Homo sapiens: one gene and its partners. The protein of the gene in region 3 purifies or fractionates together with the protein of the main gene of each other region. This does not show direct contact. Each region holds a gene or a part of one and is shown on either strand. Other genes may lie near its edges.

Region 1 (8,062 bases), on a different chromosome or scaffold from region 3:
CATACATATGTACATAAATAAAAGTCATGAAGCTGGAGGAAATGACTTGGGAGACAGGGTGGACAGAAAAGGTAGGAGAGCCCAGGCAAAAGTCATTTCTTGCTTTCAGATGTTATGGTGGAGTAAAATGAATTCCTATTAAAATGACCTGCTTAAGACCGTCATGTTTATTTTATTAAAATGTGATTTGTATTTCTCTGCTCAAAATAGTCAGCTATTGTTTCTCTTCTGTCCAAAATCCAACATATCTCTCTTCACCTCATTTCTAGGTCATCCATAGGCATGATCAGTTCTTAGCTTAAGAACTTTCCATGTACTTGATGTTGTAAGAGAGGACCTGGCAAATACAGAAATAAAACGATTTTGTTCTCACCTTTAAAAAGAGTATGCGAAGTTTACTGACAGCACAGACATGAATAGGAAATAATACAATTTTCCAGAAACAACTAGCAATAGAAAATTTATTTTTTCTTTTTTGATGAGCTAAACTTAGGACTAGGTAAAGTTTATTGTTAAAAGATGTCAGGATGTAGAGGAAGATGGCTAATTGGGGTTTAATTTATCATGGAAGTACATAAAGAGGAAGGAAAGCTCTACACACGTACAATTACTTTGCTTGTTCAAAGAAGAAAAGTCCTAAACAACATGTTACCTGCTTGTCAATAACTTGTCAAATGCTTTGACTTTTTTTTTTTTTTGAGACGGAGTCTTGCTCTGTCGCCCAGGCTGGAGTGCAATGATGGGATCTTGGCTCACTGCAACCTCCTCCTCCTGGGTTCAAGCGATTCTTCTGCCTCAGCCTCCTGAGTAGTTGGAATCACAGGTGCGTGCCACAATGCCCAGCTAATTTTTGTGTTTTTAGTAGAAACAATGTTTCACTATGTTGAGCAGGCTGGTCTTGAACTCCTGACCTCAGGTGATCCGCCTGCCTCGGCCTCCCAAAGTGCTGGGATTACAGGCGTGAGCCACCGTGCCTGGCTAGATGCTTTGACATTTGAAACCTCAATTTAGCTTTGTTATTCTTCCCCAATATTGGTACAAATGTCATTTTAATGTATCAATTTACTGCTGAGGAAACTTAAGAACATTGAGAATTTAAGAACATTGAAATTTATGTGACAGCAAAGAGCACAGTTGGGCATAAACATCATATGCATGCCAAACACATTTATGTGTACTTGCTATATATACTGGATAGTGAGCAAGGCATTTTTATTTGATCTCCAATTCTTGTCATCATTTAACTCATCATCATCTACTAAACACTCTCAGTACTTCTCAGAGATAAGTATATTAAAACTTATCTTTTAATTTTTTTTGCCAGAAACCAACAGACCACAAAACAACAATAAAATGGAAAACAAATAGAATATATGGAGCACTGTAGTTTGATAAGGTCATAATATAAGAAATGGAAGGAGGAATATATAATATCTTCAAACTACCTACCTTTGATGTCTCCCCTGGTGAGCAGGGAGAGAAAGATACCTTTAACTAAGAAAGCATATTCAGGCAAGAAACTCAGCTTAGAAGCAAGGAGGAAGAGGTCTTTTCAGAGTAGTTATTAGTGATTTATGTGCTTCTTTGCTTGTGGAAATCTTCATTTTCAAAGCTTAGCTCAAATGCTACCTCCACCACAAAAGCTATTCTAGTATTGTTCATCATTTCTTCAGTTATGTTTAAGCAATGCCTTGAAAGGCAGCTGAAAACAGAAAAAGATCCCTTAACAAAAGGCAATTGGTTTTCTCATGAAACCAATTAAATAAATAGAACGATCAATAGACAGGACTGTGAGTGATTGCCTTACGATACTCATAAACAGTCTATAAGACTTCATTCTATTACTTTCAACAGTGACCAAGAAGATTTACTCAGCGTTAAGCACTATACTAGGAATTGAAGTGATGGCTATGGGATGCCCTGTTTGGAGGTGGACTTGGTCTAGCGAAGAGCCTGAGGCAAACAGAAATATAGTCAAATAATTACTATACAGTGTGATAGGCACATGGCATAGAAGCAGCATGGTGTCTAGAAGGAGTGAGTTGCTCTGTCCCACTCACCCCCCAAATACATCTGACCTCATCTGCATTCTCTCTCACTCACTATACTTTAGCTACATTTTGAGTTTCTTGAACATGCCAAGTATGCTTCTACCTCAGGGCCTTTGCACTTCTTATTCCTCTGTTTGATAGTCTGTCACCCCGAAATCCACGGGGCTCACCTCCTGTCTCCATTCAAGTCTCTTGTATCACTTCATCAGAGTAGCTTTCCCTGACCACTCCATATAAAATTGCACCCCATCACTTCATTTTATATTGCTTACTCTTTTCACAATTCTTGTCATCATGACATATCATACGTTCATATGTTTATTATCTGACTCTCTTATTAGAATCAAAGCTCCACAAAAGAAAGAACTTTGTTTTATTCACTGTTGAATCTACATAGCTGGAAGAGTTCCTGGCAAAACAAATGGGAAGAGATAAAATGGGATTCAGGAAAGATTTCACAAAGGTGATTATACCCCCAGAGAGTTTAGAAGGATGCAAGAGATTATCATAAAAAGATAAGGGAGCTGGGAATAGCTGGCAGAAGTGTGTTCAAAGGTAAGAAAGATTAAAACCACATGGTTTGTTTAAATAATGTGAGATATTGGTTGGGCGTAAACCCTTCATTTGTGCTTCTATTACAACACATTCACCTCTTCTCTTGTAGGAGAGTTGTTTACTGCCCCTCTGTCTTTCTCAATAACTTCAGAGTTCTTTAAGGGGTGGGACTGTTTCACTCATGTCTTCATTTTCCAAGTTCTTAAACAGAGCAGATATTCTGTAATTGCTAAATAAATAAATGATAAAACAATATTTATTCATCAAGGAGCAAGAAAACTCATTTAGTTGTTCAATCAAAATGGATTTCTCTCTGTTGACAAGCGAATGCCCTGTTTGTAAACTTTATAAATGAAAGAGACCTCAGAGATCATCTAACTTGGCCTTTCCATTTTATAGATGAGAAAACTGAAGCATAGAAAGGTTGATTGCCTGACTATACAACCTGCTAGGTATAATGAAGAACTGAGGCCAGGCCTGGTGGCTCATACATGTAATCCCAGCACTTTAGGAGGCCTAGGTGGAAGGATTGCTAGAGACCACGAGTTCCAGACCAGCCTAGGCAACATGGTGAGACATTGTCTCTACAAAAAATAAAAAATTAGCCAGGTGTGGTGGCACCTGCTTGTCTGTAGTCCCAGGTACTCAGGAGGCTGAAGTGGGAGGACTGTTTGAGTCTGGGAGGTAGAGACTGCAGTGAACAGTGACCCTGCCACTGCATTTCAGCCTGGGTTACAGAGTAAGACTGTTTTTTAAACAAAACAAAACAAAACAAAACAAAACAAAACAAAACAAAAAAACAGGCCGGGCGTGGTGGCTCATGCCTGTAAGCCCAGCACTTTGGGACACCAAGGTGGGCAGATCACCTGAGGTCAGGAGTTCAAAACCAGCCTGGCCAAAATGGTGAAACCCCCTCTCTACTATAAATACAAAAATTGGCTGGGCATGGTGGTGCGTGCCTGTAATCCCAGCTACTTGGGAGGCTGAGGCAGAAGAATCGCTTGAGCCCAGGAGGTGGAGGTTGCAGTGAGCAGAGATCGCACCACTGTACTCCAGCTGGGCAACAGAGTGAGACTCCGCCTCAAATAAATAAACAAACAAACAAAAAACCTAGACAAACCTAGAGCTCCAGTTTGAACCATGGTATGTCATCTTTTCACTGGAAGATGTGCTTTCAGAAGCGGCCTGAACATTTGGTTTACCTATTAAAATAAAAACTGTACATACTTTATGATCTATCTTTGAGAAACAGACAAATCTGCAAGGAGCCGTGTGGATCTTCATTGTCATTTTTTGTTGTAGTTAAAAGTGTAAAGTCAAAAGCAATCTGGGTGTACATCAATGGAGAAATAGCCATATTCACTCTGTGATAGCCATACTATGCAATTTTATGAAGCACTTAAAATAGATATAGTTTGATTCATACTAAAATGAAAAAGAGCTCCAAGACACGGATGCTAAAAAAAAAGAAAAAAAAGGAAGTCGAAGGATGATACTATACTGTACTGTACTATTTAAGACTTGTCAATCTCAGGTTCTCCCACCAAAACAGCACAACACATGAAGTAAGTGTATAGGAAATTTCGGAATGATGAACTCCAAACAGGATATGCATCTGTAGCAAGGGCTACCTCCGGAGAGAAGGGTAGGGGAATGAGGCGGTCTTTGACCTTGACAGTAATTTATGGTTTTTAACAAGGAGAGTGCATTCTTCATCTATTAGTTTTGCTTTTGTTGGCTGTGAAAATTAATTTTTTGAGAAATAGTACTGATTGTGATTTCTTCTCTATTCAGTGAGGAAAGGGAGTGACAGGTAATGATTCTGTATCAAGGCTGATTAAAGAATAAAAGAAGGCCTTTCTGAAGATTAAAAAACAAATAAAAAGTTGAGAAGAAAGAGCACGAAGAGTAGAAGGGAACAATGGTGTACTCGCCAGCAATGGCAATACGGGTTATTAAAAAGAAGGGTGGGGGCGGGGAACCCTGGCCGACTCAGGACGCCACGGGAGGAAGCCACGCAAAATAGCAAACCGGGATCCTAGAGGGGCGGGGCCCACCTCAGCGCGCAGGCGCAACCAGGCCCAGGTGGCCGCCGCGGAAGCGAAGCCACCTATACGCGCCGCGCCGCTTGGGTCTCCTGCGCATGCGCAGACGGACCTGCGCTGGAGGCTTCATCTTTGCCGCCGCTGCCGTCGCCTTCCTGGGATTGGAGTCTCGAGCTTTCTTCGTTCGTTCGTCGGCGGGTTCGCGCCCTTCTCGCGCCTCGGGGCTGCGAGGCTGGGGAAGGGGTTGGAGGGGGCTGTTGATCGCCGCGTTTAAGTTGCGCTCGGGGCGGCCATGTCGGCCGGCGAGGTCGAGCGCCTAGTGTCGGAGCTGAGCGGCGGGACCGGAGGGGATGAGGAGGAAGAGTGGCTCTATGGCGGTACGAAACTTCCTGTCTCTGTCTCTCGGGTTCTCTCAGGCCTCCCCTCTTGGCCCTCAAACGGCCGGCGTCCCTGGCCTCTCGCGCCGCCGCTTCGGGCCTCTGGTTGGGAGTCCTGTCCGGCCTGACTTAGGCCGAGCGCGGCGTGCGCGTGCCCCCAGTCCCCGCGGCGGTCTCCCGCCTGGCCCACGCCCACCATGCGCATCCACCCCTGTGGCGGCCGGGCCGGGCTGGGGGGCTGTGACCGGTCCTGGCCCCCGGCTTCGCTGTGCTTTCCCCGAGGCGTCTCGATCGCCTAGCTGCTGCGCTCTTTACCCTTGTTTTTTTCTGTCGATTCTGAGGTGGTGGTTTTTGGTGTCTGTTTTTGCCCTGTGGCCTTAGGGTGCCCTTCCTGTCCCTTCTTTCAGAAACAGTCATTCTGTAATAATAGCTAAATAAAGTTAATGCTGTACAACTAACGTCTTGTTTCTTGATGGTCAGTTTGTATGGAATGCACCTGCAAGGGTACCTCCTTGTCTGAAAGTCGTGCTTTAAAAATAATTAATTAAGAGAGAGAGAGAGAAAGATGGCCCATAAAGAAAACTCTGAATGTCTCCTGTATTAAGGTGAAGTTATTCTTTTTTAAGAGACTACCGTTTAACCTACATCATGGAGGTATCTCATGACCCTTCGGCTTATAGTTTTCAGTGTCATCTCATGTATTTGTTTTTCTCAAAATAAATTTAATGCATCATGTACTTCTCTCTAGAAGGGTACTTGTTTGACATCTGGTTTTTAACTTTAAGTCACAATCCCTTCTTGCTTGTTAACACCAGATTTGAAAGTTAATGTTTGTTCCTTGCCTAAAACATATATTCTTGATTGTCTTTAGAATAGAATAGTAAAAGTGCACTTTGGGCACCATGCAGGTCCTTGATGATGTGACTTTGATAAACTTGTAAAAAAAAATCGTTTGGTGGCAAGATTTAGCATTAGTTACTACTCTTTGAAATGTGAATGTGTAGGATTTCTTTTACAAAGATCTGGAAATCTTCATTACCTCTTAAATTTAAGCTTATTTTTATAGCAGTAAAGTCTGATTTTTTTTTCCATAAAATAAGTATCTTGTTAAGTAATTATAAGGTGATCTAACTTTGGATGTGCTTATAGGCCCATGGGACGTGCATGTGCACAGTGATTTGGCAAAGGACCTAGGTTAGTGCTTGTGATGATCACTTCAGATTTTCATAATACTAGTTTCTTTAAGAGTGGTTTCTTTATTTTGTTTGCTTATTTATTTATTTGTTTATTTTACTTGGTAGATGAAAATGAAGTTGAAAGGCCAGAAGAAGAAAATGCCAGGTTAGTGAAATTTTCTGTTGATGCCTATTACACAGGTTGTGTGAAACAATGGTTCTGTCAGTTGTCAAAATTATTTTCTTACAATCATTGGCTTCATTACAACACTGACTTACAACATTTTGGAGGACATTGAATCCTTTAAGGATTATTCCAGTTTCAGGACCTAATCTTACGCCAATTCTATTTGTTGGTAGTTTAAAGGACAAAGTTTTTGAACTTAGGATTGGACTGATTTTACACTGTTAAGTAACTTGTTACTCTTAAGTGAATTCAGTAGTGAAGTATACAGTATAATCGTTAAGCTACTGATAAAAATATTTTAACTTAATTGAAAATGTTTTTAAGTAAATCAGGAACACTCCAAACTACTGCTTTTCCAGTTTATTAACATTTTTGATGATATAATGGCAGTTTGGTTGTAATTTCAATGCTATGTATTGTTTGCATTCAAAATGTAATTAGCTGATTTGTTATAAGGTTGATTTCTTTGTTAGATTGTAAGAAAGATGTAAGTGTTCATTTATAGAACATATACAGGGAGTCAGAATTTTACCCCAGATTTCAAAAAGCAAGCCATGTAAAGAAGTACATGGAGATGTCGGCTTTACCCTGACCACATGCATTAGTGTCTGTAATGGAGGGAGAGGTAGTTAGAAGATTTTAAGGAATATTTGGGTTTAAAAAGTGGAAGATATACAACTTCATACCGAGTAAGCTGCAATCGAAAAGATAAAACAGGTGTTAGTGAGGATATGGGGAAATAAAACCCTCATACACTTCTGGTGGGATTGTAAAATGGTGCAGCTGCTTTGAAGAACAGCCTGGCCATTTTCTCAAATGGTGAAACATGGAGTTACCATGTGAGTCCTCCACCTTAGAGGAATGAAAACATATTCAGACAAAAACTTGTACGTGAATATTCATAGCAGCATTATTCTTAATAGAAAGTGGAAAAAGAAAACCTCGCAGCTGCATCAACTGATGAATGGATAGATTAAATGTGTTATATCCATACAGCGGAATATTATTTGGCAAGGACAATAAAATGAAGTACTGGTAGATGTTACAACACGGATGAACCTTACAAATGTGGAAGCTAAAGATGTCAGTCCGTAGAGACAGATTAGTGGTTACTAAGAGTTGGGTGAGTGATTGCTAATGTATACAAAGTTCCTTTTGGGAGTGATGCATACATTCTGGAATTAGATAGTTGTGATGGTTGGACTATGTGACCATATTAAAACTCAGTTGTCCTGTTTGAATGGGTAGATTGTATAATATGTGAATTGCATCTCAAAGCTGTTACAACAAAAAATGGATAGAGGGAAAAAGTGAGAAATGGAAGTAGAAATAGCTTAGGAGGAGCTGAAACTACAGTTCAGCTTCCTTACCCAAAAAATCCCCTATAGTCTTTTCACTCATTGGTATATTATCTGAAATGTTATTTCATTTTAAAATTTATATATTCAACTCAGTTCCTAATTCTGATCTCAACCACAAAGTTGAGATTAGTTTTAGTTTATGTTATGAAAGTGATTGAATATTTCTTTGTACCCATTCCTTCAGTTGGTCAAGAAATTAATTACAGGTATAGTTTTACAATCAAATATACTTTTCTATATGATAATCTTTATCCCATTAATTTTTATTTTTATTGGTTACAATTTTAAAAGCTTACTTTCTAATCAAACAT
Region 2 (5,417 bases), on a different chromosome or scaffold from region 3:
ACTCACCTCCTGGTGGCAGGACTTGGGCACAGGTGCACTTGTGATGCACCCCACGTGATTCCCACGGGTAGCCCAGATTGAGAGCCCCTGCTAGAGCAAGCAAAGGTGCCTGGACTTCATCTTTATCACAAGGACTTCATTAAGGCCTTCAAGCAGCAGAGGCTTGAGGCCAGGTCTGTTCCAGGAATCAGCTATAGGGGAGGAGATGGAGGTGGTTGCAGGAATTCAGAGGGGAGAGTAGACTTGGACTCGAACAGCAGCAGTGGAGATGAAGACAGAAAAGATTCAAGTGCAACTTAGAATCCTTATTATTAACTCAAATTGGTTACCCCAGAGGAGAGGGTAACCAGCAGCGGTTGCTATCGGCAGATCTTGATGGTTTCAATGGGAGCTGCACATACATGCCTGGAAGAAGAATCCAAAATTCTAAAATAATGGGCAGTTGATCTAGTAGTTAGTTCTAGAATAATGGACAAATTAATTAGCAATTTAGCAGTATTCAGGCTGTTGAAATAAAGGCCATTTGACATTAAAAGTAAACAGGCTCCCCCAGAGAAACGAATGCATTTTATTTTAGGTAACAAAAGTAGAGTCAAGTATTTTTTCAAAGTTCATATACAGGCACAGTCTCAGTGAACTGGCGTCAGGGCCTCGTACAGTCTCTGTGCAGCCAGCTCCACCATTTCTCGGAGGGATTCATCGTCTTCACTTCCCTCTTCACATTCTACAGTCTGAAAGTGAGGCACAAACAAGACTGTTAGAATTAAGTCTATAATGATTATATAGAAGATAAATGAATACTCTTTAAAAAAACCATCATCTCATAAAAAATTAGCCAGCTGTGGTGGCGTGTGCCTGTGGTCCCAGATAAGAGTCTGAGGTGGGAGGATCACTGAGCCGGGAAGGTTGAGGCTGCAGTGAGCTGTGACTGCACCACTGCACTCCAGCCTGGGCGGCACTGCGAGACCGGGTCTCAAACTAAAAAAAAGAACAATCATCTGTGTGTGCAGAGGTCATGGTGGGACTGATTACCATGAAACAGAACGGCCGCCCTACACACTTGTGGGCGTGCAGTGCTTCCTGACAGCAGCACGGTCCTAATTAGTGATGACTTGAGGCTGGGGTGAAAGACTGGGGAAAGTCTAGTAAACTACATTTACATCAAAGCCCACAGTTTGATCTAGTAAATGATACTCCAGGGAAGTTCATCTATGCCACACAAATTACTTGGCAAGGAATGGATGTGGCTATCTACTCAACATTTGGTACTGAATTTGACTGAAACTCACTAATAATCTTCTAGTTGCTTCTTTTTTTTTTTTTTTTTGAGACAGAATCTCGCTCTGTCGCCCAGGCTGGAGTGCAGTGATGTGATCTCAGCTCACTGCAACCTCTGTCTCTTGGGTTAAGGTGATTCCTGGGTTCTCCTGCCTTAGCCTCCCAAGTAGCTGGGATTACAGGCACACCACCACGCCTGGGTAATTTTTGTATTTTTAGTAGAGATGGGGTTTCATCATGTTGGCCAGGCTGGTCTCAAACTCTTGACCTCAGATGATCCACCCACCTTGACCTCCCAAAGTGTTGGGATTACAGGCGTGAACCACCACGCCTGGCCTCTAGTTCTTTTTTTTTTTTTTTTTGGAGACAGAGTCTCGCTCTATCATCCAGGCTGGAGTGCAGTAATGTGATCTTGGCTCACTGCAACCTCTGCCTCCCTGTTTCAAGCAATTCTCCTGCCTCAGCCTCCTGAGTAGCTGGGACTACAGGCAGCTGCCGCCATTCCCGGCTAATTTTTTTTGTATTTTTTAGTAGAGATGGGGTTTAACTGTGTTGCCCGGGCTGGTTTTGAACTGTTTGGAAAATCCACTTGGATCTTGCTGGTGCAAACAGAAGAGCGGCTTCTTTAAAAAATGGAGAGTCAACTAGATGCCAAACTAGAGAAGGGATGAGGTGAACTAAGCTGTATTATGGAAGAGGACAGCAATGGAGTGGCATACACGCGAACCTTGTACTATGCAGTAACCCGGAAAAACACGGAAAACTTCAACCATAATAATATAAAAAGAACAATGTGAAAAAAATGTTGGAAACACTGGAAGCAAATGCCAATATGCAACAGTAGACTGTTGAGTGTGAGAGCACAGATTATTTATGCCTTCACTTTATTTCCCAAATGTCTTGAAACGTAGGAAAGAGCAGCTACATACCCGTGTCTCCAAGTTAAGGTTGGCAGTTTTCCCGTCCACTGTGACGCTAAGAATAGAGTCATCCTTTACACTTACACAGTCTTCTCCAAATATGTCCCTGAAAATAAGCAGAAATGCAGGATTAGTGAAAATGCCCGGCTTTATATATTTGAGGAAAAAATAAAACTGAAGATAGGTCCTAGTTCTAAAGCAGAATACTGTATTTACTTTTTTTCTTTTTTTTTTTGAGATGGAGTCTTGCTCTGTGGCCCAGGCTGGAGCGCAGTGGCACAATCTTGGCTCACTACAACCTCCGCCTCCCGGATTCAAGTGATTCTCCTGCCTCAGCCTCCCTAGTAGCTGGGATTACAGGTGTGCACCACCACAGCCAGCTAATTTTTGTATTTTTAGTAGAGTCAGGGTTTCACCATGTTGGCCAGGCTGGTCTTGAACTCCTAGCCTCAAGTGATCCACCTGCCTTGGCCTCCCAAAGTGTTGGGATTACAGGCAGGAGTCACCATGCCCAGCCTGTATTTACTTTTGAGACAAGCTTCTTATTTGCCTTGATACAGCTTATTAAGTTTATAAAACAGGGAAAATACACAGCTTTATTCAAGAATGATCTATTCAGCAGGCATCATGCTAGGTGGTTTATATACATTATCTTAACCTATAATTTTAGTAAGGATCCCCTTTTACATGTGAAGAAAACAAGACACAGAAGTTAAGTGATTTGCTTAAAGCCTCACAGCTAGTAAACAGCTGAGCCGGCATTCAAATCCAGGTATCTAGGTTTAAATGGCTCCCAAGCCCACTAGCTGTGCACTCCTACTTTAATTAAACTTGGTATTTATTGAGCATCTTCTGTGTGGCAGATTCCTTCTGTGCTAGTAGCTGGGGATAAAGAAGGCACTAAGACATTGCCTCTGTCATCGAGAGAAACAGTTTTGATGGTTAATTTCAACATCGTCCCCATTGGTACAGAGGTGTTAGGAAACAGCAGTCCACCAGCAGGCTGAATGCAGGTAAGAAAGGCAGGCAGTGACTCTAAACAACCCATGGACCATGGTCAGCCTAGGACAGTTAAGCACTGACAACACTGTATTAAGCGGGGGAAGTGGGGAGTGGGAATCAACTCCTTGCATCTTCAGGCAGTTACTGCTCATCATATGTGTGAATAAACTTAGGTGGGACCCTAGCACAAAGGAAAAGATTATATTTTATTTTATTTATTTATTTTGAGACGGAGTCTTGCTTGTTGCCCAGGCTGGAGTGCAGTGTCCCGATCTCGGCCCACTGCAACCTCTGCCTCCTGGTTTAAGCAATTCTCCTCCCTCAGCCTCCTGAGTAGTTGGGATTACAAGCACCCACCACCACACCTGGCTCATTTTTGTATTTTTAGTAGGGGTATTTTGGATGGGGTTTTGCCATGTTGGCCAGGCTGGTCTCGAACCCCTAACCTCAAGTGATCCACCTGCCTTGGCTTCCCAAAGTGCTGGGATTACAGGTGTGGGTCACCACACCCAGCCAAAAAAATTATATTTTAAACACAGAAATGTATTCAAAAGGATAGGAAAAAAGGTTCCATTTTCATGTGATCCACTGTTGGCTTCTCTGAAGAAACCAATACATCTACTCCTATCTAATCCTAAGTGTTTAAACAACTGGGGAAATAGCTGCATTTTTAAGGGTACGATTGGCTTTGAAGTTTAAGGACATGGGAACCTCCCATTCCTGGCCGAATGGAAGCTGTCTCATACTCCTGTTCCTCAGAGTTGAATAGTTCTGGTGTGTTTGTGGGAGGTGAGGGAGAGGGAGGGGAGGCGGGAGGAGTGGTGTCAGGAGGACAGGGAAGAAGGCCAGAGTGAAAGTCCAGTGGAAGGGCCGCAGCCTCCCGCAGACTGCCCTCCCCACGGCTCCTGAGGACCAGCCACAGCAATGTGAACTTCCATTCTGCACCCCGACTGCAGCACGTGGGAGAGCGGGGCCAGTCCAGGGCCACACGGGTTTTCTATTCTTGTAGAGCCCCAGGGAACAGGGCCGCCAACAGAACTATTGTAGTCAAGTCCCTGGTCAGCAACACCCACCTTCTACAATAGGGCTGTTTAACCGGGGGTCCCAGGATAGCCTGTGGGGAGGGGGTTGTCTAACCTCCTTGAAATCAAAGGTAAAACTGCATATATGTGTGTCCCCTGCCCCCGCCCCACAGCCTTACCTGACTGCCAAAGGGGTGAAGGATCTAAAAATGATTAAGATACTCAGACTTCAACGCTGGCAGACTTGAGCCCTCTGCAAAATGAGTTAAGAGAACCAGAGGCTCCAGGGGTGGGAACCAGTAAAATCTCTGGCCTTTTCAACGGCCATGGTAATCACTGTGCCTGCACTGTTGGCTGGTTTTGTATGAGGAATGCTCTTTAAAATCAAAATGACAACACAGAGAATACTGTTTTGAAGATGTATGACAACTTCTATAAACAAAGTCATCATTTAAAGTCTATCATTTTTTTTTAAAGCCACTAAACTGCTGCTTTAGTGGGCCGGGCACGGGGGTTCACACCTCTAATCCCAGCACTTTGGGAGACCAAGGCAGGTGGCTCATGAGGTCAGGAGTTCGTGACCAGCCTGGCCAATATGGTGAAACCCTGTCCCTACTAAAAATACAAAAATTAGCTGGGTGTGGTGGGCATGCGCCTATAGTCCCACTTGCTCGGGAGGTTGAGGCAGGAGAATCGCTTGAACCCGAGAGGTGGAGGTTGCAGTGAGCTGAGATTGTGCCACTGCACTCCAGCCTGGGCGACAGAGTGAGACTCCGTCTCAAAAAAAAAAAAAAAAAAAAAAAAAGGTCAGTGTAGAATTTTGGGGAAAGAAAGGAAGGAACAGAAATGTTAGCATAAAAGCCTTCTAAACTAGCAGGCCACCTTACTTTGTTAAACCGTTTCATGGGGCAAGGGCTCACATCTGTAATTCCAGCATTTTGGGAAGCCAAGGCAGGAGGATCCCTTGAGCCCAGGAATTTGAGACCAGCCTGGGCAACATAGGAAGTCCCTGTCTCTCCAGAAAAATAAAATTAGCTGGGCATGGTGTTGCGAGCCTGTGATCCCAGCTACTTGGGAGGCTGAGGCGGATTGCTCGAGCCTGGGAGTCAAGGCTGCAATGAGCCAAGATCATGCCACTGTATTCCAGTCTGGGCAATGGAGCAAGACTCTATCTCCCAAAAATAGAAATAAAATA
Region 3 (8,448 bases):
CTTATTCACACACTTCATCTAGCTAACTCAGTTCTCAGTTTAAATGTCATTTCTATAGTGATACTTTTCTTGTGATATCAATCTAAGCCATGTCCCTCGCCTTCTTCTTTCCCAGAGCACCCTGATGATTTCATTTTTTTTTTTTTTTGAGACGGAGTTTTGCTCTTGTTGCCCAGGCTGGAGTGCAATGGCACAATCTTGGCTCACTGCAACCTCCGCATCTGGGGTTCAAGCAATTCTCCTGCCTCAGCCTCCCAAGTAGCTGGGACTACAGGCGTGCACCACTACACCCAGCTAATTTTTTTTTTTGTATTTTTAGTAGAGACCGGGTTCCACCATGTTGGATAGGTTGGTCTCGAACTCCTGACCTCAGGTGATCTGCCCGCCTTGGCCTCCCAAAGTGCTGAGATTACAGGTATGAGCCACTGTGCCCCGCCAAACATGTTTATTGGCCATATATATATATATATATATATATATATTTTTTTTTTTTTTTTTGAGATGGAGTCTCATTCTGTTGCCAGGCTGGAGTGCCATGGCACAACCTTGGCTCACTGCAACCTCTGCCTCCTGGGTTCAAGCAATTCTCCTGCCTCATCCTCCCGAGTACCTGGGACTGCAGGCGCGCACCACCACACCCAGCTAATTTTTGTATTTTTAGTAGAGACGGGGTTACACCATGTTGGCCAGGCTGGTCTCAATCTCTTGACGTTGTGATCCGCCTGCCTCCACCTCCCAAAGTTCTGGGATTACAGTTGTGAGCCACCGCACCAAGCCTTTTTTTTTTTTTTTTTTTTTTAGATGGAATCTCACTCTGTTATCCAGGCTGGAGGGCAGTTGCATGATCTCAGCTCACTGCAACCTCCACCTCCCGGTTTTAAGTGATTCTTGTGCCTTAGCCTCCCGAGTAGCTGGAACTACAGACATGCGCCATGATGTCCATCTAATTTTCATATATATATATATGTATTTTTTTTTTAACAGACATGGGGGTTTCACCATGTTGGCCAGGCTGGTCTCGAACTTCTGACCTCAGGTGATCCACCCAGCTCGGCCACCCAAAGTACTGGGATTACAGGTGTGAGCCACACCTGGTTTCCTTATTATTTTCACTTGTCAAATGTGTATGTACGTATATTTGTGTGTGTATGTTTTTTAATGTTGTACATACATACTTTTTTTTTTTCTTTTTCACTCTGTTGTCCAGGCTGGAGTGCAGTGGTGTGATCTCAGCTTACTGCAACCTCTGCCTCCCAGGTTCAAGCAATTCTCCTGTCTCAGCCTCCAGAGTAGCTGGGATTACAGGTGCACGCCACCATGCCTGGCTAGTTTTTATATTTTTAGTAGAGGTGCGGTTTCAACATATTGGTCAGGCTGGTCTCGAACTCCTGACCTCAGGTGATCCACCCACCTCAGCCTCCCAAAGTGCTTGGATTACAGGTGTGAGCCACCATGCCCAGCTGAAACATACATTTTTATGTTGTAGGTTTTCTTCAAAGGACTCCAAATTCTACAACAGCAGGAATCATATACCCAGCACTTACCATAGTCTGGCTTATATGGGCAGGCAATTATTTATGGATGAATGAATTTCTATTGCCACAGTGCAGGTTTTAATTCTTTTCAACAAAGATTATAAGCTCCTTAAAAGCAGAGATTGTCTAATTAAAGTTTGATCTTCCACAGCTCAGTAGGCAGTGTCTTGGACACAGAAGGTAGGTGTTCTATAAATATTTATTCTATGAATCTTGAATTACTAACCTAGACTCTCTTTCTCTTCTAATTCACATAGCATATGTGATTGATTAAAGTTCACAACTCATTGTTGGTAATGTCATATAAATTATTAGGCTTGTTGTCCAGTTTTGAAAAATCTCCAATAAGCTATTTATTTATTTAGACACAGGATCTCTTTCTGTTGCCCAGGCTGGAGTGCAGTAGTGAGACCACAGCTTGCTGCATCCTATATCCTGATCCTCTAGCCTCAGCCTCCTGAATAGCTGGGACTACAGACACATATCACCACACCCAGCTAATTAAAAAAACTTTTTTTGTAGAGGTAAGGTCTCACCATCTTGCCCTGGCTGGTCTCAAACTTCTGGCCTTAATAGATCCTCCCACCTGGGCCTCCCAAAGTTCTGCAATTACCTGGGAGAGCCACCACATCCGGCTTCCAAAAGATTATTTAATATATGACTTAAAAAGAGTTCAGGACCCATCAGATTTCTTTAAACTAATGACACTCTTTAGTTTGTTGTGGATGTCCTCATCAAGTTCTGAGAAAAAAATATAAATTTCTTTTTTGGGCAGGGCCCCACAGCTCATGACTGTTATTGCAGCACTTTGGGAGGCCTAGGTGGGAGGATTGCTTGAACCCAGGAGTTCAAGACCAGCCTGGACACATGGTGAGACCTGTCTCTGCAAACAAAACAAAATCCTACAGAAAACCCGGACATGGTCGTGCAGGCCTGTAGTCCCAGCTACTTGGGAGGTGGGAGGATCGCTGGAGCGCAGTAGTTGGAGGTTACGGTGAGCTATGATCATGCAACTCCACTCCAGCCTGGGTGACAGAGTGAAACCCTGTCTCTAAGAAAAAAACAACACTTTTTTGGCTAGGTATTGATGAATGCTAAATCTTTACAATTTTACACATCCAATAATTGGAATAATTTCCCACAGATTAGCTTCAGGTTCCCAAAATTTCAACCCTGCTTCTCTTCTACTATTCACATAGTTTTTGATGCTAGAACATTGGACACATTAAAATAACTTCAAGAGTTCTGGCCCTGCACCTTTGTTTTGCAATGCTGGGTGGATCAGCACAACGGGCAATTGGAGTATTCTTGGAAGCCACTGGGACAGCTGGCAATATCTTAACTACACATGGAAGTGACTGTGGGTTATAAAAATATATCCCAGTAAATTCAAACCAAATGTATTCCTAACTCAACTTCCCTTTAGCTAAATTTCAAAAATGTTTGCTTGCCACTCCAACACTAGACAAAGGGAAACATGGTGGAGGGAAGTCACTAAGGACTAAAGATTGCAGTTTAAAATACATTACTTTTATAAATTTTACAGAAGCATAGGACAGTGTGAACATATTACTAGGGACCCTTCCAGGGACTTGGAAAGGGCTAGTGTAAATGAGGGCACCTGAAGCTGAAGCCTCCTTAGCTTCACAGTAAATCTGCTTCAGAGTCTACGGCCATTTTAATTACTGAGTAAACTGTCAACTTTCAGAGTCAGCTCTATGTAGGGCTAGTGAATATGTTGATTACAGCTCCATTTGAGGAAGTTTTTTTTTTTTTTTTTGAGATGGAGTCTGACTCTGTCCCCAGGCTGGAGTGCAATGGTGTGATCTCAGCTCACTGCAACCTCTGCCTCCTGGGTCCAAATGATTCTCATGCCTCCGCCTCCTGAGTAGCTGGGATTACAGGTGTTTGCCACCATGCCCAGCTAATTTTTGCATTTTTAGTAGAGACAGGGTTTCACCATGTTGGCCAGGATGGTCTTGATCTCCTGACCTTGTGATCCGTCTGCCTTGGCCTCGCAAAGTGCAGGGATTACAGGTGTGAGCCACCGCACGCCCTGCCTCTTTGGTCTTATAATTACTTTATACTCCTAAAAAGTATTGAGGACTCCAAAAAGCTTTTATGTGGATCATATTTATCAACATTTACTATATTAGGAATTAAAACAAACATATAAAATATTTATTCATTTAAAACAACAATAATAAACCTGTTACATGTTAACATAACATAAATAACTTTTTTTTTGAGAGAGGGTCTGGCCATGTTGCCCAGGCTGATTTCGAACTCCTGGGCTCAGGTGATCTTCCCGCCTCGGCCTCCCAAAGTGCTGGGATTACAGGTGTGAGCCACTTCATTTGGCCTAATAACATATTTTTAATGAAAAATAACTATTTTCCAAAGCAAAATAATTTAGTGAGAAGAGTGGCATTATTTTACATTTCTGCAAATCTCTTCAGTGTCTGGGCTAATAGAAGATTCTCATATCTGTGTCTGCGTTCCATCTGTATCACAGGCATGTAGTCTCTGGAAGACCTCACTGTATTGTTATTAGAGTGAAAAAGGCAGTAAGTCTTAGTATGAAAATAAAGTCTTAGTATGAAAATAATTTTGACCTTATGGATTCCCTGACTACGCTTTCAGAACCATTGATTTAGACATCATTATATCTACTTTTTAGTTGCCTAGTGCTCCCAGAGTACCCTCTCTCTCTTTCTGTAGCTATATAATCACTCACCTCCTGCGTAAGTCAAATGTTAATTATTGCTATACTTTTTAGCATACATGGAAAACTTTAGAAACCACAATTCTTAATGAATAACAAGTCTTAGCAACTCATTTTTCTCTTTAACTGACAAGGAAAAAATTATCTTCTTCATTGTATTCTCCCTCATAGTACAGGGAGATATAAAGAAACCCTTGGTTTGGGGTTACTTTATAACTAAGGCAAATGTTAGACTAAGATCAAACGCAACATTGGGTGCCTTATATAAATTAATGTTACTGGAGAATCTAATATTTACTAAGTCATTTCTGTGTGTGAGGCATGTGTTAAGTGCTTTACATACATTATCTCATTTTATTCTCACAAGAATCTTACAAGATGGGTAGTACCGTCATTTCTATTTTACAGATGAGTAAACGGATACGGAGAGGTTGTTAATGCCTAGTGTTACACACAGGATTGAGGCAGGATTTGAATTGAGATAACCTGACCCTGGAGCTCTTAGTCTATTATCTACTGATAAGGTATAAAGGTAGGAGATAGAGCACGATTAGTATAAAATGAGTGCTGAGATGTGAGAGGAACAAGACAGCTGAGATACCAAGACTGAATCTCTATTATTTTCCACCCTAGAAAAATTCTGCTTTATTTTCTACACTCCCACGTTCCTCTTCTCATTTTTAAGATACTTTATTGCCGGCGGCCTCGTCGCTTAGGCCTGACGCGGACCCTGAAATCAAGGAGGCAAACTGAACAGGAGCGGGGGAAACCCCGTGGTAACCACGGTAACGGTGGCGGGGCGAGAACCCTGCGCAGGCGCGTTACATCCCACTCCCGCTTACCCACACCACGGCGGCCGGTCCCAGCCACTCCTCTCGGCCTCAGACTCCACGGGCCGGCCACGGGTGGGGGCAGCAGGGAGGCACGGGCTTGGCGCCTGCGCAGTCGCCGGGGCGCTGGTGTGATCGAGCTCACGTAGCGAGGGCTGCAGTCGCCTCCTCCCTGGCGCTGCCATCGCGGCCTAGAGGTTATAAAAGGGCTAACGGGCTCCCTCTGCTGCCCAGTCGCGCCGCCAGCGGGCTGAGGGTAGGAAGTAGCCGCTCCGAGTGGAGGCGACTGGGGGCTGAAGAGCGCGCCGCCCTCTCGTCCCACTTTCCAGGTGAGACGCTCCCTCGATCCCGGAGACTGAGGCCACTGGGCAGCCGTGGACCTTCTCGGACGGCTGCGGCGATCCATTCCTTCCCGCTGTGGTGGTACTTCTGGGGCGGGGGTTCCCCAGGTTACCACAGCAGCCTCGGTTCCTTCCCCTCGGGAGACTCGGCCCCTCTCCCTGCGCCACGCGACTCCCGGCGCCCGCGCTCCTTCGTGCCCCCCTTCCCACCTCTGTCCCTAGTGCGCCTCGGACCGCTGGGGCTGCTGCAGCCTCAGTCCCCGCCCTAGGGACCAGGACTTTCTTGAATTTTCCTTCCCGGGGAGGAATCACTCTGTTGCTTTTTTTTTTTTCCAAGTTCCCCTGCACCTGGTCCTCCCTAACGAGGCTAAGGGGAACGCAAGCGCGGGGCGTGGGCTTTTGGCCGCCACAGCCGCAGATGGTTCGCATGTGGCGGTGGAGAGCGGATTTTAAGGCTTGGAGCTGGATCCGCAGCGCGCCAGGCATTTTTGCCCTATCGAAAGTCGCCGGGAGCTGGGGGGACCTCCCCAGAAAGTTCCGGCTGAACTCATCTGTTGCGCGCAGCGGTGCAGCATTAGCTGCCAGACGTAGCCCGGGGCGCCGAGCTTTCTGCTCGTAGCGCCGAGGAAGTAGGCTCTCAGGTCACCTCGTCGTCAGGGAAGCTTCCTTCCCTCTTCTTCCCCATAACTTTTTTTAAAAAGAGACAAGAGCTCTTCTCTCAATCTCTGTCTCTCTGTCTCTCTCTGCCGAGAATTTGCAGCTTTTAAAAGTCCACATCAGTCCAACAAATTCCATGGTTGTGTGAGGATTTTGAGTTGGATTACATGGCTGGCCCCCGGATGTATGTTTCAATGGGGAGGAAGGATGGTATGATAACTGTGAGACTCTTTCTCCTAAATAATCGACTCTGTTACATACAAATTCAATGTTTAGACACTAACATCTTACGCGTTCCGGATAGAGTGAAGACTCTTGGAATTTTGCACTGTTTTCTTTAAGAAAGGGTTGAAGAAGCAGCTAGATCCTCTTTTAGGAATTGATCTAAAAGGCCAAAGAGACTTGCCAATTTCCACTTAACTGTTTCTGGTTTCTCCGAGAGCAGTGGTTCTCGGACTTTCGCTTGGAATGCACTCGGAGGGGATGAAATAGCCACTACGTGAAGGGGGGAGGGGCAAAGACGTGGCAGCAGCGTTCTTTCATCAATTTTTTACTCTTTTTTTTTTTTTTTTTTAAAGTTCTGGTTAGAAACGTATTTCCCCTTTTAGGTTTAGACGTAGCTTATGAATGAGGCTAGTCTTTTCCTAAAATAATCAGATGAAGAATTCAGTCTGCATAGCAGGAACGTTGGAAGTTAATTTAAAAAACATTTTAAAGGGATTTTTAGAATCAAGTTTCTATGGAGAAAATCGGTATCCTAAGACGATATATTCAAGAAGCTGAAAGTGAACAACCTCAACTATATTTTGTCTTCATGTGAAATGTGAATACACACCCCGTGATTTTTTTTTTTTTTTTTTTTTTTTTTTAGCTTGTGAGCGTAATTTAAGAATCTGAAATGTGAACTTCAAATTTTACTTTTTTCTTTATGTGGGAAAAGAGACTTTATCACTTACCTTTAATAAAATTCATAGTCAGTTTTGGTTTTGGGACATTGTGCCTTAAGTCCTGCCATTGTTTTTGATAGCTGATGACAAATGTTTCTTAGATTTACATAGACTAACTAGGAAAAGGACTATTTCTGTCTCTTTTAAATGGGTAGTGCTGTTTTTATTGACATTTTGAAATGAGTTTTATTTTGAAGTACTGAAAATCAGGACTTTGGTAGGCGGATAATTACATTGGCCATTTTGTGTTTTGGTAACTTAGATGGTAAAACAGTTGAAAAATGTGTACAACTTTTAATTATGCCAAAAAAATTAGTGCAAAAGACTATTGAAAAAAAGTTTTATATTGCCTTGTAGTCTGGGTTGTTGCAGATGAATCTTGGCTTTTTGGCAAGGAGCTGTTAACCTTTTCTATTAGTGCAGAATAAGTTGTATACTGAAAAGCAGTGTTTTTCAGTAGGGCAATTAAGTTCAAACGGCATTTATTCCAGAGATGCAGCAAGAGCTGGGACAGCCATAAAGCTTGTGAGCCTTCCTTTCTGTGGAAGGAATGCTTTATTTTACTTAGCAACCAGTTATCAACTAGGATATAATTATTGCTCTTGAATTGACCTGTGAGATACATAATAGTGGTTCTCAAACTATTTTAAGGTCATGAAATCCTTTGAGAATCTGATGAAAGGTGTGGTCCTATGTCAGAAAATGCAAATACACCCTACATGGAATTTTGTATGTCACTTCCTGCCCCCCCACTCAAGTCCATTCATGAACTTTATTATAAGAACCCCTAAAAAGTAAGAGATGTGAAGTTACTCTCTAAGGGTATCTAGGTGTCTTGAGGCAGTATTGAATGTTTCTGAAAATCGAGCTGGGCATGTAAGTCTGACTGGACTTGTATATGTGGGTGACCCTAATACATTTTTGCCAAAAGGGTTTTAACAAAAGTTAATAGGTTGTTAGAATTGTTGAAATGCTAAATTGTCTAGTCTGTGAAAGTATATCACATTGCATGCCCTCTCCTATATATGGTAACTTAACTTTGGTTTTCCATTCTGAAAGTGGAACAGGCTTGGAAGTAAACAAAAATAAATTGCATAGGCTCTTGGCATTAAACTTTATTGCTTTTCTTGCAGTGAGATCTTGAATCTTGTAATTAAACCATAATGTGTTGTGTGTGTATAAATATATGAATATATATAAAAAATCCAAATAAAATGAGTATGTGTGTGTGTGTGTGTGTGTATATATATATATATATATATATATATATATATATTTTTTTTTTTTTTTTTTTTTTTTTTTTTTTTGAGATGGAGTTTCACTCTGCCACCCAGGCTGGAGTGCAGTGGTGCAATCTCGGCCCACTGCAAGCTCCACCTCCCGGGTTCACGCCATTCTCCTGCCTAAGCCTCC

What was found.
Region 1: the proteins of P4HA1 (region 3) and FIP1L1 purify together in Homo sapiens (affinity purification with mass spectrometry; 2 studies listed by BioGRID and IntAct, with this or other methods). This does not show direct contact.
Region 2: the proteins of P4HA1 (region 3) and CPSF3 purify together in Homo sapiens (affinity purification with mass spectrometry; 2 studies listed by BioGRID and IntAct, with this or other methods). This does not show direct contact.

The regions. Positions count from the first base shown.
Region 1 is NC_000004.12:53,372,896-53,380,957, forward strand, and holds the start of FIP1L1 (pre-mRNA 3'-end-processing factor FIP1), read left to right. Parts: upstream 1-4,745; 5' UTR 4,746-4,943; coding exon 4,944-5,028; intron 5,029-6,177; coding exon 6,178-6,222; intron 6,223-6,329; coding exon 6,330-6,369; intron 6,370-8,062.
Region 2 is NC_000002.12:9,468,230-9,473,646, reverse strand, and holds the end of CPSF3 (cleavage and polyadenylation specificity factor subunit 3), read right to left. Parts: intron 2,305-5,417; coding exon 2,208-2,304; intron 732-2,207; coding exon 630-731; 3' UTR 546-629; downstream 1-545. UniProt on the Homo sapiens protein: Component of the cleavage and polyadenylation specificity factor (CPSF) complex that plays a key role in pre-mRNA 3'-end formation, recognizing the AAUAAA signal sequence and interacting with poly(A) polymerase and other factors to bring about cleavage and poly(A) addition.
Region 3 is NC_000010.11:73,093,737-73,102,184, reverse strand, and holds the start of P4HA1 (prolyl 4-hydroxylase subunit alpha-1 isoform 2 precursor), read left to right. Parts: upstream 1-5,318; 5' UTR 5,319-5,419; intron 5,420-8,448. UniProt on the Homo sapiens protein: Catalyzes the post-translational formation of 4-hydroxyproline in -Xaa-Pro-Gly- sequences in collagens and other proteins.